2 separate regions of the Homo sapiens genome follow, and region 1 is linked to region 2. Evidence: fine-mapped expression QTL. Tissue or cell type: cerebellum. Region 2 holds a variant in brackets; the other region holds the start of a gene. All regions are shown on one strand. Distances are from middle to middle. Region 1 holds the start of DCPS (decapping enzyme, scavenger). Region 2 overlaps FAM118B (family with sequence similarity 118 member B).

Evidence for each region.
Region 1: DCPS starts here. The variant in region 2 is fine-mapped to the expression of DCPS in cerebellum (GTEx, PIP 0.98).

The regions. Positions count from the first base shown.
Region 1 is chr11:126,298,767-126,307,873 of GRCh38, reverse strand. DCPS (decapping enzyme, scavenger) reads right to left here and starts at 3,814. Exons shown (of 6, transcript NM_014026.6): 1 at 3,593-3,814; 2 at 1,130-1,304. The coding sequence starts at 3,793. It overlaps TIRAP-AS1 (TIRAP antisense RNA 1), which reads left to right and starts at 3,552. Exons shown (of 2, transcript NR_187388.1): 1 at 3,552-3,686. RefSeq lists an enhancer at 1,779-2,068 and a silencer at 3,727-3,856.
Region 2 is chr11:126,249,774-126,258,880 of GRCh38, reverse strand. It overlaps FAM118B (family with sequence similarity 118 member B), which reads right to left. Exons shown (of 9, transcript NM_024556.4): 5 at 8,148-8,375; 6 at 4,448-4,576; 7 at 2,029-2,314. It also overlaps a transcript of SRPRA not described here. Among named protein-coding and RNA genes, the nearest start is that of SRPRA, 15 kb to the left of the region's middle. The variant G/T (reference allele first, on the strand shown) is at 3,941.

The sequences.
Region 1 (9,107 bases), 49 kb before region 2:
AAGTTATTTAACCTTTCAAAAACCGGTTTCCTCATTCGTAAAGTCCTCCTTACAAGAGGGCTGTTTTGAGGATTAACTGTGTTAATACATGTAGATACAATAGTAAGGATTTCCTAAGTGTTGTTGACAATTTTTATCATTCAATTAGTAGATTAATCTATTATTCTGGCTGGGCACGGTGGCTCACACCTGTAATCCCAGCACTTTGGGAGGCCAAGACGGGTGGATCACGAGGTCAGGAGTTCAAGACCAGCCTGGCCATGATGGAAACCCTGACTCTACTAAAAATACAAAAATTAGCCAGGCGTGGTGGTGGGCGCCTGTAATCCCAGCTGCTCGGGAGGCTGAGGCAGGAGAATTGCTTGAACCTGTGAGGCGGAGGTTGCAGCGAGCCGAGATCGCGCCACTGCACTCTAGCCTGGGCAACAGAGCAAGACTCCATCTCAAAAAATATATATATATTATTCTATCCCATGAATCACACTCTCTCCCTAAAACATACTACACTACAACAAGGTTTCTCTTTTTTTTTTTTTTTTTTGAGATAGGGTTTTGTTCCATCACCCAGGCTGGAGTACAGTGGCACAATCTCAGCTCATTGTAACCTCTGCCTCCTGGGTTCAAGCGAGTCTCCCACCTCAGCCTCCCAAGTAGCCAGGATTACAGGTGAACGCCACCATGCCCAGCTAAATTTTGTATTTTTAGTAGAGATGAGGTTTCACCATGTTGGCCGAGAGTCTGGTCTTGAACTCCTGACCTCAGGTGATCTGCCCGCCGTGGCCTCCCAAAGTGCTGGGATTACAGGTGTGGGCCACCATGCCTGGCCAGGTTTCTGAGTTTCAGCACTATTGACATTACTTTGCTGTGGGAGCCTGTCCTGTACATTGTAAGGTGTTTAGCAGCATTCTTGATCTCCACCCACTAGATGCCAGAAGCAACACCCCACCACCACCCCCGATTCTGACAATCAAAAATGTCTTCACCGATGGCCAAATGTCCCCTAGGGAAGTAATCTCCCTATTGTACTAGAATATGCAAATCGGGTATAGAGAGTCTGGTCACCATACCACCTAATTTCCCACCATCCCATTCTCCCTCCATACAGCCACCCTGGCCACCTCTTGCTCACCATTCAGTTGTCTTGGAGGGAACAAGTGATAGGTGCTGTAGATATCATTGGAGAACTGCAACTGGAGCTCAGGGCTGCCCGTCAGGAGCTGAGCCACCTGTTCCACCTGAAATGGCGTCTTCTCCAGGATCACAACGGCATCCTCTCCATCCCCATCCCCAGAGGCCTCATTCACCTGTGGGCAGAGGCATCATCAGTGGGCTCAAGGGCAGAACCACGATGAGACTCTGGAGAGCAAGACAGAAGCTCCCAGGGCCTTTGAATTCCCAATACTTGGGATTTCCTTCCCTGAAGTCTTCCCTCTGGGGAAGTCTAGCCAATGGCACTCACATTTCACATTTCTTTTCTCAGAGAAGGCATCTTTTTTTTTTTGAGATGGAGTGTTGCTCTGTTGCCCGGATTGGAGTGCAATGGCGCGATCTTGGCTCACTGCAACCTCCACCTCCTGGGCTCAAACAATTCTCCCGCCACAGCCTCCTGAGTAGCTGGGATTACAGGCGCATGCCACCACATCTGGCTAATTTTTGTATTTTTAGTAGAGATGGGGTTTCACCATGTTGGCCAGGCTGGTCTTGAACTCCCGATCTCAAATGATATGCCTGCCTCAGCCTCCCAAAGTGCTGGGATTACAGGTGTGAGCCACCATGCCCAGCCAGAGAAGGCATCTCCACCCAAATCCTTGTGGCAGTTCTCACACCTTTCTTCCCCAGAATACAAGGCTTCTCAGTTGTCTTCCATTTTAGGCTTACAAGACCTCTGTCAAGTTCTCCCCATTTCAGAAGATGAAAAACAGACCTTGAGTGACTTGCCCAAGGTCACATGAACAGTCAGCATTGAAACAGAAACCAGAACCTAGGTCTCCCAAGTGACTCCTAGCTCGAAGGCTCTCATGACTAACACCTTCAACAGGTGCTGCACACTGAAGACAGCTGGGCTGAGAGAACCAGACAGAATCGCATACAAAAAAACAGAAAACAAGAAACAAAAACAAACAAACAAACAAACAAAAAACAACAAAAAACAAGGCCCAGCGCAGTCGCTCATGCCTATAATCCCAGCACTTTGGGAGGCAGAGGTGGGTGGATCACCTGAGGTCAGGAGTTCAAGACCAGCCTGGCCAACATGGTGAAACCCTGTCTCTACTAAAAATACGAAAATTAGCTGGGCATGGTGGCAGATGCCTGTAATCCCAGCTACTTGGGAGGCTGAGGCAGGAGAATCACTTGAATCCAGAAAGTGGAGGTTGCAGTGAGCCAAGATAGTGCCATTGCACTCCAGCCTGGACAAGAAGAGTGAAACTCCATCTCAAAAAAAAAAAAAAAAAAAAAAAAGGCGGGTGCGGTGGCTCACGCCTGTAATCCCAGCACTTTGGGAGGCAGAGGCAGGCGGATCACCTGAGGTCAGGAGTTCGAGACCAGCCTGGCCAACATGGTGAAACCCCCATCTCTACTAAAAATACAAAAATTAGCTGGGCATGGTGGCGGGGGCCTGTAATCCCAGCTATTGGGCAGGCTGAGGCAGGTAGAATAGCTTGAACTCGGGAGGCAGAGGTTGCAGTGAGCCGAGATCACATCACTGCACTCTAGCCTGGGTGACAGAGAGGAGAGACTCCGTCTCAAAAATAAATAAATAAATAAATAAAAATTTAAAAACCAGATACACACAGAGGCATGGAAGCCTAGGCCAAGGTTCCCTGATCCTCCCAAAGGTGAGAGTTCCTGCTAGTAGTTCTAGGGAACCCCCTTATCTGCCCTGGCTAGGCCTCCTCACTAGTTTCTGGGGAACCCCCATATCTGCTCTGGCTAGGCCTCCTCACTAGTTCCTGGAATGGTCTCCATCTCTCCTCAGCCCCTGCCAGATTGCTGAGCACGTTGGTATTGGAGCAAGCTGTGTGTATCTGTCTCGCCAGAAATATTCCGTAGTCCTGAAGATCAGGGATGGTAACTTTCGTCTCCACATCCCCAGTACCTAGTTTAGTGTCTGGCATGCATGAAAGTGCGTGCGTAGAACTGAATTAACAATTATAATATATTGTTCTCCTGTTACGGCTGAAGTCGCGTAAGGCAGAGATCACATCTCCTACAGTCTCATGTCGTTTCCACGGACAGGGATGAGCGAGACATCTAACATTGACTGGGTTCCTAGTCCCTGTATACATAAATGGATGATGAATGGCTTGGGGAATGTAACATGTGATCTTTAATCTGCAATGCACTCTCCCAGTAGATATTTCTAGTGGAGACATTAGAAAAATTAGAGCTAGATGTGTTCATTGCCTTAATTTCAAAGGCAATCTTGCCGCCTTTCACCGCCCCTCTATGCATTCTAGTGGCGCACTCCCGCCTCCCCGGAGTGATAATGATTGGTATTTTCCAGCCGAGATCCGAAAAAAAAAAATCTGCCTCCGAGGCGATGATTGGTTCACTGCTTCCCGCATCCCACCTCAGGGTTGCCTCCTGGTACCTTCCCGTGTAGGAAAATGATTTTGTCCCGCGCAGACTCCCTCAGCACCTTCTGCAGTCTGAAGCCGGAGAACGGTAAGCGGACAGGAGCACAGGTACCATTTCCAACTCCTGCCTCCTTTTCCTCTGTGCTGGCGGCGTGGGCCTCCTCCACGTCCAATTCGCGCTTCCTCTTGCCTAGTTGAGGAGCTGCGTCCGCCATGCTGCCGCGGAGGCGGTGTGCGCCTGCGCCCCCTGCGCTGGCCCCGCCCCTAGCCCGAGTCCAGCGGCCTGGCTGGGCTGCTAACTCCCGGCCTACCCTGCTCTGGCACCCGCTCCTGCGGGATGCGTGCCGCGCATGGCGGAGCCCGCTGACCTGTCCCAGGGCGCGCCTTTCAACCGAGTTACTGCCTTTGGCCCCGTTGTGGTGCCGGCCGGCCCTCAGGGAAGGGAAAAGAAGGCTGAGAGTCCCGAAAGCGGCGGGCTAGAGGTGGCTGCGCAGTGAAGAGGGACCCCCAGGCCCACGCCCCGGGGTGGGAGCCGAAGACGCCCTTGGGCCACGGTAGTGTTGGAGCCCTTGTTTGAATACTGACATTTTAATCATAGTTACACCGACGTTGACCAATTATCGGGGAAGCAACGTTTCTGACGCAAATCCGTGAGCCCATTTGATTCCTTGGTCGATTTTTTATACCGAGTATTTAAGCCATTTCCATTTTTCTCCCATTTTAATTACTTTGCAGAAATTTTCATCGTGGTCAGTTTTTTACTTTGTAGACTCAGTACTTTTCTGCTGACAAAAAAGGTAAACGAATATGGCCAGAAGAACCATCTCCACCACCCACTTATTTCCGGGCTAGAGGCATCCCCCTCCTCTCTATTTTGTTTACCTGTATTTCTGCCCTGCTACCCAGGGATATGATTTGCAGTATGATTCGTCTCCCAGGGTTTCGTTTCTCTTTTTTTTTTTTTTTTTTTTTTTTTTTGCCATATAAAATTATTACTTGTAACTTCTGCTGTTGAGGGTTTCTTTGGTGACCATTGTTTCTGGTTAGCCCGTTTTTCACTGGTGTTATTTAACAGATCTAAATTTTGTGAAGAGTTGGTACTTACGGACAGGCGCGGTGGCTCACGCCTGTAATTCCAGCACTTCGAGAGGTCGAGGTGGACGGATCACGAGGTTAAGATACCGAGACCATCCTGGCCAACATGGTGAAACCCCGTCTCTACTAAAAATACAAAAATTACCCGGGCGTGGTGGCCCGCGCCTGTAGTCCCAGCTACTCGGGAGGCTGAGGCAGGAAAATCGCTTGAACGCGGGCGGAGTATTGTAGTGAGCCGAGATCGCACCACTGCACTCCACCCTGGCGACAGAGCGAGACTACGTCTCAAAGAAAAAAAAAAAGAGTTGGTACTTACATCGCTTCAGTCAGCCACACATTTATTTTGCCAGTGATTTGAGTTTAGGTTTTCAGACAGATCTCATGGGTGTGGGACAGTTTTTGCCATTCTCAACGTTAGCAACAAGATGCAATTTACAGTCAGTTTTTGGTCAATAACAAAGTGTACCATGTGTTAGTTTGATTTTTGGATTACTTCTACCAGAAATATAGATTAGGAGTTGGATAAAAGACTACTTTAGGCCAGGCGCGGTGGCTCATGCCTGTAATCCCAGCACTTTGGGAGGCCGAGGTGGGCGGATCACGAGGTCAGGAGATCGAGACCATCCTGGCTAACGTGGTGAAACTCCGTCTCTACTAAAGATACAAAAAAATTAGCCAGGCGTGGTGGCGGGCGCCTGTAGTCCCAGCTACTTGGGAGGCTGAGGCAGGAGAATGGCGTGAACCCGGGAGGCGGAGCTTGCAGTTAGCTGAGATCGCGCCACTGCACTCCAGCCTGGGTGACAGAGCGAGACTCCATCTCAAAAAAAAAAAAAAAAAAAAAGGACTACTTTGTGTGTGTGTGTGTGTGTGTGTGTGATGCAGAAAGCATTATTAGGAGAGACTTAGGATCTGTCCCCCAGGCTGGAGTGCAATGGCGCGATCTCGGCTCACTGCAACCTCTGCCTCCAGGTTCAAGCGATTCTCCTGCCTCAACTTCCTGAGTAGCTGGTATTACAGGCGGCTGCTACCACTCCCGGCTAATTTTTTGTATTTTTAGTAGAGTCAGGGTTTCACCATGTTGGCCAGGCTGGTCTCGAACTCCTGACCTCGTGATCCGCCCGCCTGGGCCTCCCAAAGAGCTGGCATTACAGGCGTGAGCCACCGCACCCTGCCAAAGTAGCTATGTTTTAACAAAAAGAGCCCATAATTGAGAGCCATGAAGTCGGGCCCCAACACTGACTAGCTGTGCAACTTTGGAAAAGTCTCTTAACCTTTCCAGGTCTCCATTTTCCATGTGCCAGCGGCTATTAGTTCTAAGCAAGACAACGAGGCCTCTTCTTTCATAAAATGTATATTCAAATGGGGTACATGAGGTAAACAAGATAATGATTAAGAACTGTTTTTTGTTTTTTGTTTTTTGTTTTTTTTTGAGACGGAGTCTCCCTCTGTCGCCCAGGCTGGAGTGCAGTGGTGCGATCTCGGCTCACTGCAAGCTCCACCTCCCAGGTTCACGCCATTCTCCTGCCTCAGCCTCCCAAGTAGCTGGGACTACAGGGGCCTACCACCACGCCTGGCTAATTTTTTGTATTTTTAGTAGAGACGGGGTTTCACCGTGTTAGCCAGGATGGTCTCAATTTCCTGACCTCGTGATCTGCCCGCCTCAGCCTCCCAAAGTGCTGGGATTACAGGCGTGAGCCACCGTGCCCGGCCAAGTACTGTTAATAGGACAAAACTGGACAGTGTGAAAGAGCCTGGGGATAGGAGCCCCCCCCCCCCGCCCTTTTTTTTCTTTCTTTGAGACAGAGTCTCACTCTGTCACCCAGGCTGGAGTACAGTGGTGCAATCTTGGCTCACTGCAACCTTCACCTCCCAGGTTCAAGCGACTCTTCTGCCTCAGCCTTCTAAGTAGCTGGGATTACAGGCGTACACTAGCACACCTGGCCAATTTTTGTATTTTTAGTAGAGATGGGGTTTTGCCATGTTGGCCAGGCTGGTCTCAAACTCCTGACCTCAGGTGACCTGCCCATCTCCCAAAGTGTTGGGATTACAGGCATGAGCCACCATGCTCGGCCAAGCTCTTTAGATAAGATGATCATGGACAGCCTCTCAAAAGGTGACATTTGAGCTGAGACTTGAATGATGAGAAGGAACCAGCCATATCAGCCATATGAAGAGCCCAGGCACAGTAAATATTAGCTGTCAAAGGCCCTAGAGCAGTAATGTGCTTGACATTTTTAAAAAATAGGAATGACCGTGGGGCATGGTGGCTTACACCTGTAATCCCAGCACTTTGGGAGGCTGAGGTGGGCGGATCACTTCAGATCAGGAGCTCGAGACCAGCCTGGCCAACATGGTGAAACATAGTCTGTACTAAAAATACAAAAATTAGCTGGGTGTGGTGGTGTGCGCCTGTAATCCCAGCTACCTGGGAGGCTGAGGCAGGAGAATCACTTGAACTCAGGAGGTGCAGGTTGCAGTGAGCCAAGGTCGCGCCACTGCACTTCAACCTGGGTGACAGAGCAAGACTCTGTCTCAAAAGGAATGACCTGTGTAGCTAAAATATAATGAGCAAAATAGAAACATTTGAAATGAAATAGTAGAGAAATGTATTCATTAGCGGCAAAATTAATCAATATGGGTATAATTTTGATTAAAATATAAAACCAGAATTCTACTCTTCAAAAAGGCCTGGCTCATGCCCCACGTGGTGGCTCATACCTGTAGTCCCAGCTACTTAGGAGGCTGAGGTGGGAGGACCACTTGAGCCCAGAAGTTTGAGGCTGCAGTGAGCTATAATCACACCACTGCCCTCCAGCCTGGGCAAGAGAGCGAGGCTTTGTCTCTTAAAAAAAAAGAATGCCAAGGAAAGGATGAGCTCATAGGAAGCCTCAGCTACCAGAGGTTCTATTAAATACCAGACCTCAGTGTGAAAGGAATCTTTATGGTAGTAGTTAAAATTCATTTCCTCAGTTACACTAGCCACTTTGCAAGTGCTTGATATCCACTTGTGGCTATCGTATGAGCACAGATGGAGAACATTTTCATTATCAAAGGAAGTTCTACTAGACAATGCTGTATTAGCTTACTCATTTATTATAAAGCCCTGTTCAATTGTTTTTCAGAAATCTTAAAATTTCTCCCACGCAAGGTGCGGTGGCTCACGCCTGTAATCCCAGCACTTTGGGAGGCCAAGGCGGGTGGATCACTTGAGGTCAGGAGTTTGAGACTAGCCTGGCTAACATGGCGAAACCCCATCTCTATTAAAAATACAAAAATTAGCTGAGTGTGGCAGCAGGCACCTATAATTCCAGCTACTCGGGAGGCTGAGGCAGGAGAATGGCTTGAACCTGGAGGCGGAGGTTGTAATGAGCCAAGATTGCACCACTGTGCTCCAGCCTGAGTGACAGAGCGAGACTCTGTCTCAAAAAAAAAAAAAAAAAAAAACCTCCCAAATCTTTTCTTTTTTAGTCTAAAGAAGGATTGGATACTTCCCAGTTCCATTTCAGGGATTATAACAGACTAAACTGAAAACAAGTCAGCTACAAAATACCCGAACATTCTGGATGTAAAATTTAAAACATTCTTTTAGTTACGTTGCTGAGCTCTCAAAAAAGTAAAATTTGCAGGAACCAAAAATGATGTGGGAGTTTGAATCTATAGAGTGGTAAGGGGATTTTTAAGGTGGAAGCTATTTTAAGGGCCATTGCTGATCTCTAGACGTCTAGGACCCGATTCAAGGGACAAGAGACAAGACCTGAGCTTATGTAAAGAGGAATTAAGATACAGAACTTTCTATAGAGCTAAGAACCCTGAAGGTCCACTAGCTCAATGAAGGGGCCAACAATTTTTTTTTTTTTTTTTTTTTTTTGGATACGGAGTCTCACTCTGTCGCCCAGGCTGGAGTACAGTGGCGCGATCTCAGCTCACTGCAACCTCCGCTGCCTGGATTCAAGCGATTCTCATGCATCAGCCTCCTGAGTAGCTGGGATTACAGGCACCCACCACCACGCATAGCTAATTTTTTTGTATTTTTAGTAGAGACGGAGTTTCGCCACGTTGGTCAGGCTGGTCTCGAACTCCTGACCTTGGGTGATCTGCTCGCCTTGGCCTCCCAAAGTGCTAGGATTATAGGCGTGAGCCACCATGCCTGGCCAGGCCAACTATTTATAAAAAAGAAAAATGCTGCCCTACTAAAGGAGAGAAGGTGATTAGGAAACTTGCCTGCTTCAACCGTTGTTCCAGAGGGAAGAAGGAAAAAACCTCCTAAGAATTTATAACCACAGATGATTCTTCATGCAGACAGACTTCACATTCATGATTGTGTACATGATCCAGGACACTCAAACTGAAAAATCTACTTAAACTGGTCTTGTAGTCTTTATTGACTGTTTGTACCAAATTGACTCCAGGAGAAATGGAAAATCTAATTAGATC
Region 2 (9,107 bases):
CTTTGTTATGTAATGCAACAGTCTAAAGACATATTTATTTTTTGCTAAGATTTAGTGCAACAGAAACAGTTATGCAGACGGATTTTGCTGTTTTAAACTTTAGCATCTTTCCTCAGCATATAGATCAAAAGAAATATGTAGAACTTGGATATGTATGTCTTGTTAATGAAAACAACATGTGCAACAGAAAAGCCTTCTCAAAGTCTCAAGTGTGGGCAAACAACAGCAGGAGAGTCTAGAACACTGCAGGACACCAGAAAAACTCATTTCCAACAAAGAATAGTAAATAGTTTTCACAAATGAGACTTGTTCATGTGGTGATGGCTTTTAAAAGTCTGGTTCCATCAAAGCATAGCCATGGAAGAAGCTGTGTAATTTTTCATTACAGGAGAATTCTACTTGAAGCCATCTGATTCAGTTAAGAAATCTGGGGATGATTTGATTTAGGAAAACTGCTTTATGTTTATTAAATTACCTGTATGTTATTTATTTTAGAAACAGCGTCTTGCTTTATTGCTCAGACTGTAGGGCAGTGATGCAATCATAGCTCACTGCAGACTCCAACTCCTGGGCTCAAGTGATCCTCCTGCCTCAACCTCCCAAGCAGCTGGACTACAGGTGTGTGCCACCACACCTGGCTAATTTTTTGCAGAGACAGGTTCTCACTATGTTGCTCACACTCATCTTGAACTCCTGGCCTCAAGTGATCCTCCCACCTGGGCCTCCCACAGTGTTGGGATTACAGGACAAATTACCTGTACTTTTGCCCTCCTAAGATGCATTCAGGTTGACAATGAAAATACTTACATAAGTTTTCAGGAAATATTCTGTGCACAACAGCCAAGTTTTTTTGGAATTAGATGGATGAGTCACACTAGCCATACTCTGGAGCCTGGCAATGTGAGGTTTTGAAAAAGCATTCTTCAGTTTAGCTGATACCAAAAATGTTTGTGTTTTGTGCGGTTACTGGGAATTTGCCTGCAGCCACTAATCAGCTGAATCTTTAATCACCATTTTGCTCTTTATTGTTAGAATGTGGAGGTAAAATATCAAGTGTATGATACCCCTATCCTCTGACTTGAATATCACCATTATCCGTTTCCAAATAGCATTTCTAAAAGTAAGTTTTCTGTTTGTAAATATAATACATAATCATCATAGAAAATGCCAATACAGAAACCAAAAAATCAACACTTTAAATCCTACTAAAGATAGCCACTTAATTTAGTAAACATTCCAGATACATTTCTACACGCACCAAAAAAAAAAAAAAAATGTACAATTCTATATGAATATAGCTGACCATGGTATTTACAACCTGCTTTTTCTTCCTTTACTCATATGTCTCTAACTTTTTTTTTTATGGCAATGAAAACACTTTCCCTTCTATGGTTTCATTGTATTTCATCAATTAAATAAATATTGGCATATCTGTAGAATCTCCACCAATTTTAGGATCCTTCCAATTTTTTGCCACTACATTCAATGGAAATTACATTCCCACGCATGCATCTTTGTACAATTGTGTGATTGTGCAATCATCCAATTATCTCCTTATGAGAAACTTCTAGGATAAATTGTTTTGATGGGATTTCTAGGTCAAAGATTTGAAAATTTTTGTTACATCTTCTAATTTATGGTCATAAAAGTTGTACTAACTTTACCTTTCCACAAATACTCCATGAATAAATTTATTTTCTCACAGCCTTAGCCAAAATTGGGTGATCTTTCTTCGCTATTTTGTAATCTAAATTCAAACTGCATTTCATTGATAACTAGTGAGGCTGAACATCTGTTTTCTTCATTCTTCCTATGTCTATATTGAACTGCTCAAGTATTCCTTTTTGTCTGTCTTCCCATAATCCAAGTGGCACTTTAGTCTAACCTGAAGACTGTGGCCTCCTTTACAATTTGGTCAGTCATTACATTCCTCATCTTGGCAACTATTTTGCCCATCACATCACAAATACACAAAAGGCTGAAGAGCTGTTGTTCTCTGATTCCCCTCAGCTTCAAAATGCATCTTACCTGATGTACCCCTTGTGGAGATCTCACATGTCAGTCGCTTGAAATATTCTGGAAGATCGGCATAGTCATCTCCATAGGAGATGACTTTAATCCCCTTGTCCAGCATGTTTTCTCGAAGCTTTTTGAACTCATCTACGTCTCCTCTCCGAACCAGCATGAAATGTTCTAGGTCAGATTTATGCTTGACAGCCTCCAAGAAAAGGGCCTGGAAAGTGGTGTCATCCACAGTCCAGCCACAGCCCAGGAAAAGAAATGACTTGTTTTCGTAGAGTTTCTGAATTTCTCTCTGGAAGGAAAAGATACAACATATTGACATTGTGAAGACACACTCAAGGCAAGTCTGAAACAAGAAGGTCATGCTACGTTGAGCAGACTGTGATGACCAATTAAGCAAGACTTAAGTGGGTTGGTATGTCCCATCAAGGAGTGTGATCTCTTGCTTATTGCTGTAACTTGATGATTGGTCTAAAATTTTATCTTTACCTGCCATTCTTCTGTAGGCTCTCTAATCAGCGTTTCATAGAGCTGGTGTCAGTGTACTGGTGCAGTAGTTTACTTCTTTATTTTTTATGCTTTATATATTTTTTGAGACGGAGTCTCACTCTTTCACCTGGGCTAGAGTGTAGTGGTGTGACCTCGGCTTACTGCAACCTCCACCACCCTGGTTCAAGTGACTCTCATGCCTCAGCCTCCCGAGTATATTACAAGTGTGCACCACCACACCCAGCTAATTTTTGAATGTTTAGTAGAGACGGGGTTTTGCCATGTTGGCCAGGCTGGTCTGGTACTCCCGACCTCGAGTGATCCACCCACCTTGGCCTCCCAAAGTGCTGGGATTACAGGCGTGAGCCACTGCACTTGGCCAGTAGTTTACTTTTTTATTTTTATTTTATTTTTGAGACAGAGTCTTGCTCTGCCACCTAGGCTGGAGTGCAGTGGCATGGTCTTGGCTCACTGCAACCTCCTCTGCCTCCCAGGTTCAAGCGATTCTCCTGCCTCAGACTCCCAAGTAGCTGGCATTACAGGCACCTGCCAGCACGCCCAGCTAATTTTCCTATTTTTAGTAGAGACAGGGTTTCACCATGTTGGCCAGGCTGGTCTGGAACTCCTGACCTCATGTGATCTGCCTGCCTCAGCCTCCCAAAGTGTTGGGATTACAGGCGTACTTTTTTAGATTTATGTGCCCAGAGGTCATTGTGCAAAGAGTAGGTCTTCATATATCTTAATCCTTCCATTTCTGGACCATATTTGCCTTTGTCTCACAAACTGAACTGTGAATCACCAGAGAAGATAATTCCATCATCGGATTTGCTCAAGGAAAGGCGTTTGATACTTAGAACATCAGTATGTGTGTGTGTGTGTATACATATACACACACAAAAACACAGAAATGACTGCCTAAGGGATCACTCAATGTCAGAGATGGATGCAGTTATGGCAGATGTTGGGAAAGAATGGGTAAAAAGAAAAAAAAGTCCCTTGTGCTTTAGACAATACATTTTCTCGGTCTTTTGCCTCATTATTAAAAGATGCTATAATCTATATGACCCAGTCCTGAAAACAGCAAACAAGATTCTTAGAGCTGGGGGCAGCGAATACTTCTGGTTTGAACATGTTTATCTGAACAAGTCGAAAATGTGCATCCCAAAAGATCAATAAGCTTTTCACAAAGAGTAAGTGTGAATAAATGTGGTTAATTCAATATAAGCCCATTGCCATTTATACAAAGTCTCTTTAGAATGTATTCTCTAGTAGTGGTTGGTTTGTTAAGAAGCTGCCTCAATTATTTCTGACACAGAGAGGGCTATTAATAAACCAAATGATGATAAAGGGTACTAATGTATCCTTTGTATGTGAAGATGATGCCAATGATGACATGCCATCTGCTGGTTGTCAATTAAGTACAAACAAA[G/T]ATCATAGGGTTTGACACCTTAAGAGAAATTCTACATTTCCTAGACAGCATGCACACCCATAAGTTAAGAAGCACAGGAAGAACGTCTGACTTTCCAGTTTCTTTCTTTTTTTAGAGATAGGGCCTTGCTCTGTCACCCAAGCTGGAGTGCAGTGGCTCTAGACACAGCTCACTACAGCCTTATATTCCTAGTCTCAACTAATCTTCCTGCCTCAGCCTCCCAAGTAGCTGGGACAGCATGCACCATGATGCCTAGCTAATTTTATTTTTGTAAAGACAAGAGTCTCGCTATGTTGCCCAGGCTGGTCTCGAACTCCTGGCCTCAGGTGATCCTCTCCCCTTGGCCTCCCAAAGTGTTGGGATTATAGGCATGAGCCACTGCTCCTAGCCCCTGACCTTCCGTTTTCACTTAATGAAAAGAAGATGTTCCCCTTTAAGATCTATGGCATATTTAGAGAGATTTCCCAGGAAGGAGTTCCTGAGACCAGCAAGATCAGCCCCACTCACCATGACTTCAGTGTTCCTGAGCACGTTCTGATATCCAGCCGGATGAAGGACAATGCCACTAGGGTTGGTGTAGACTCCGTGAATATGCAACACGCTCAGCTTACGCTTCTCCTGAGCCCACTCGAGGACCTGCACAACACACATATAGCCCAACCAGCTTGGCAGGGCTGAGCACCTGTTTAAAGGTCACAATGGGCAAGAGGCTGTTTTGAGGACTAGACTTCTGACATAAACTCTCTAGCTTCATGATATAGGACAAGAATGCAAAACCTGATGTGGTCTAAGTTTCCACTTCAGGAATGACTGTCAAGAATGATGGCAACAAATTTGGTGATTTCTCTTTGAAAGTAAGCATCAAAAATCACAATTTGTCATAATTTGCAGAAACAACAGGGACCCTTTGCACTGGTGGCATGCATGAGAGCTATGGACAACTGCTTCAGTGATCGCCCCAAGAAATCAAGCCTCTGTATCCAGGCCCTTGTGTGGCCCCTCTTCGGAGTGACTCCAGGCTAACCACATGGCTTGCTTTTAGCCAATGGGATACTAGCAAACACACACAAGCAGAAGCTTGAAAAGTGTTGGCACAAGAAGTCTTACTTCTCTTGTGTTACTTTTGGAATCCAGCTGCCATGCGAAGAAAGTGAAGAAGCCTGGGCTAGCCTGCTGGGACATATATGGCCTGGCCAATTGCTTGCAGGGAAGTATGGTCCCCTTATATCACTCAGCCCTGGTGCGGCCATCAGATGTCTGCAGGTATGTGAAGAGGGTGCAAAAATCAGCAGAAAAAATGCCTGGCTGAGTCACTGAGCCCAGTTCAAATTGTTAATATACTTTATCATGGGCAGATAAGATATTTGTTGTTACAAGCCACAAAGTTTCACGGCCATTACTTGTACAGCAATAGATAAGTGATAGAAAAATCACTTCAGTCACCTCTGAGGAACCTAAAAGGCTGCCAGCGAAGAACAATCATTTAGACAACAGCGAATGCAATAGCCACCTGATTCCATGGCTCCATTTTCCCAAGGACTGGAGACAGCATACATTTATTCTTATCACATTTTGGAGAAATAGGCTATGAATCAGGAAAGTAGTCAAGAGGCACCGAGATTTAGAATTTGAATGTTACTAGGCCCCATTCTGACTACCAGTCAATGTCTTTAACCATTAGACTGCAACACTGCCCCTAATGTGGGCTGAAAATACAATGCAAATCTTGAGGCCCAAGGATGAAATGAGAAGGAAAACATCAAATGTGATAGATATCCTCAGCTTTTAAAAGGTCCTTATGCTTCTGATATCCATGAACACACTTGGTCATAATCTTTGGAAATTTTATCACAAATAGCATAGAAGCTGCTAGTTTTAAAATTTCAATCATTTGTTTGTTTGTTTTTAGACAGAGTCTTGGTCTGTTGCCCAGATTGGAGCACAGTGGCGCAATCTTGGCTCACTGAAACCTCTGCCTCCTGGGTTCAAATGATTCTCCTGCCTCAGCCTCCCAAGTAACTGGGATTACAGGCGTGCACCACCACTCCCAGCTAGTTTTTGTATTCTTAGTAAAGACGGGGTTTCACCATGTTGGACAGGCTGGTCTCAAAATCCTGACCTCAAGTGATCCACCCACCTCGGCCACCCAAAATGCTGGGATTACAGACGTGAACCACTGTGCCCAGCCTATTTATTTAGAGACATGATCTTATGCTGTCACCCAGGCTGGAGTGCAACAGTGTGATCACAACTCACTGTAGCCTCGACTGCCTCAGCTCAATCGATCGTCCTGCTTCAGCCTCCCAAGTAGCTGGGACCACAGGCAAACACCACCATGCCCGGCTAATTTTTAAACTTTTTGTAGAGATGGGGTCTTGCTATGATGCCCAGGTTGGTCTTGAACTAGGCTCAAGTGATCCTCCCGCCTCAGCTTCCCAAAGTGCTGGGGTTACAGGCCTGAGCTGCTGTGCCCAGCCCAATCATTTATTAATCAAAAAAATATTTACCAAGCACCTAACTGTCATATTTGAGACATGAGGGTTGTATTTGAGTTATGAGGGTAAGAAAGACTAACATGATACCTATCCAAGTGAAGTTACTATTCCTATGGGGTAAACAGTCAGAAAACAGATAAACAGCCAAGATAAAAACTGTGCTGGGTGTGGTGGCTCATGCCTGTAATCCCAGCACTTTGGGAGGCTAAGGTGGGCAGATCACCTGAGGTCAGGAGTTCGAGACCAGCCTGGCCAACATGGTGAAACCCTGTCTCTACTGAAAATACAAAAATTAGCCAGACGTGATGGCGGGTGCCTGTAATCCCAGCTATTCGGGACGCTGAGGCAGGAGAATCGCTTGAACCCAGGAGGAGGAGGTTGCAGTGAGCTGAGATCATGCCATTGCACTTCAGCCTGGGCGACAAGAGCAAAACTCCATCTCAAAACAAAACAAAACAAAACAAAACAAAACGGCCAGGCACATGCCTGTAATCCCAGTACTTTGGGAGGCTGAGGTTAGCAGATCACCTGAGGTCAGGAGTTTGAGACTAGCCTGACCAACATGGAGAAACCCCGTCTCTACCAAAAATACAAAATTAGCCGGGCGTTGTGGCACATGCCTGTAATCCCAGCTACTCAGGAGGGTGAGGCAGGAGAATCACTTGAACCCAGGGCAACAAGAGCGAAACTGTCTCTCAAAAAAAAAAAAAAAAAGCTGCAAGTTAATACTAAGTGCTACAAAGGAAACGGACAAGAGACTGGATAAAAAAAATAAGTATCCAATTTAAATAGGATGGTCAGAGAAGGTCTCTCAGGAGGGGATCCCTAGGTTGAGAGTTATAAATGAAGAAGGAGCTGACCATACAGAATATGAGGGCGTAGGCGGAAGACACTTGGACCAGAGAAAACTAGTCTTCATGGGGCAGCTTTTCTCTAAATTCAATTCCCTTTAAATCCTGCCATCAAGGTCAGCAAAACCACAAGAGTGGTATTTCAGCTACCACTCTGGCAGGGGCAATACTGTAGTACTGAATGCCAGCAGGCAAATCACTTGTCTATTCAACTCTACTTAGTTGGGCTCTAAATTGGACATAAAGGCAGATTCCTGAGGAAAACAAAGTGTAGGAAAAAACATTACAAAAATCACAGAGTAGGACCAATGAGACTTTAAGAACTCATCTCATTAGCTGACACAGATCAACATCTATAATTCAATAATTATGGTAGGTACAGTATAGACTATGCTAAAACAAAGTCTGCTGAGGTTTCCACTAAACATTAACCTCAATTCAGCCATCGCTTGGCCTGGAAGTTGTTCTTCCAATCAGTATAAAGTAGTTTTCATACATTTCCAATAGATGCCATAAAAAAAGGTATCCTAAAATAGAACCAGCATTATCAATATTACACCACTGAATACTGTCAAGTGCTAAAGAGATCTTACAGTTCAAGTGACTTCCTCTAATCTTGCTTTAAAACTGGATGAAATTGTCAAGAGTCATAGAACTGAACACTTTTAAGTTCTATGCATTTTACTGTATATTGATTTGATCTTTAAAAAGAAAGAAAAAAGAAAAACAAAAACTCCAACCAGGGAAAAAATTTTTCCTTTCTAGCTCTACATAAATACCAATATACCAACTAGAAAAGAGCTTTTCTGAGGAAGATAAAATCCACTAGCCTGAAGAAGGGACCAATGCTTTACTTTTTACCTTTTTCTCATCAGTAAGGTCAAGGGATTCAAGCTGTTTCCCCTGATCTGCTGCATACAGTTCCAAGAGATTATCAAAATTTGTAGTTAATACGAGGGCTCCATTTTCCATCAGGTGGAGAACTGACTGAAGTAGCTGTTTTCCAGAATCTTCCATCTTTGACTCCAAGTCATCAAATACTTCATATAAACAGTCCTTGAAAAATGTGGATCGAACATTACTGGTACGCTGAGGAGGGATTTGAAAAAAGAAAATTAGTCCAAAGTGCTTTGGTAGGTCAGTTGTTTTAGTTACAGCAGTAACAAATTTTGGAAGAATATTTTGAATTCAAAACAGAGATAAAGGCCAGGCGCAGTGGCTCACGCCTGTAATCCCAGCACTTTGGGAGACCGAGGCGGGCGGATCACGAGGTCAGGAGATCGAGACCATCCTGGCTAACACGGTGAAACCCCGTCTCTACTAAAAATAAAAAAAATTAGCAGGGCGTGGTGACAGGCGCCTGTAGTCCCAGCTACTTGGGAGGCTGAGGCAGGAGAATGGTGTGAACCCAGGAGGCGGAGCTTGCAGTGAGCCGAGATCGCGTCACTGCACTCCAGCCTGGGCGACGGAGCGAGACTCCATCTCAAAAAAAAAAAAAAAAATCCCGGGGATAAAATATTATCTATCTCATACGAACGTAATAAGGAAGATGAGATGATACATGCCAAGTGCTTAGCACAATGCTTAGCAGATAGCAAGTGCTACTATACGTAAGCTTCCTAAAATAGGCATTTTTATAGAATGAAGAAAATAAACCTGGCCAAGGGATATGAATTTACTGTCGGTATTAAAGGGAAGCTGGGGTACAAAGCAGAGCGACAACTACCCTCTCATGAGGTGCCAGGTAAGAAGGCAACACTTTCCGTTCATCTTGCCTTATGTAGGGAAACGCCACTGAGACACAGCCCTAATTGTGGTTTG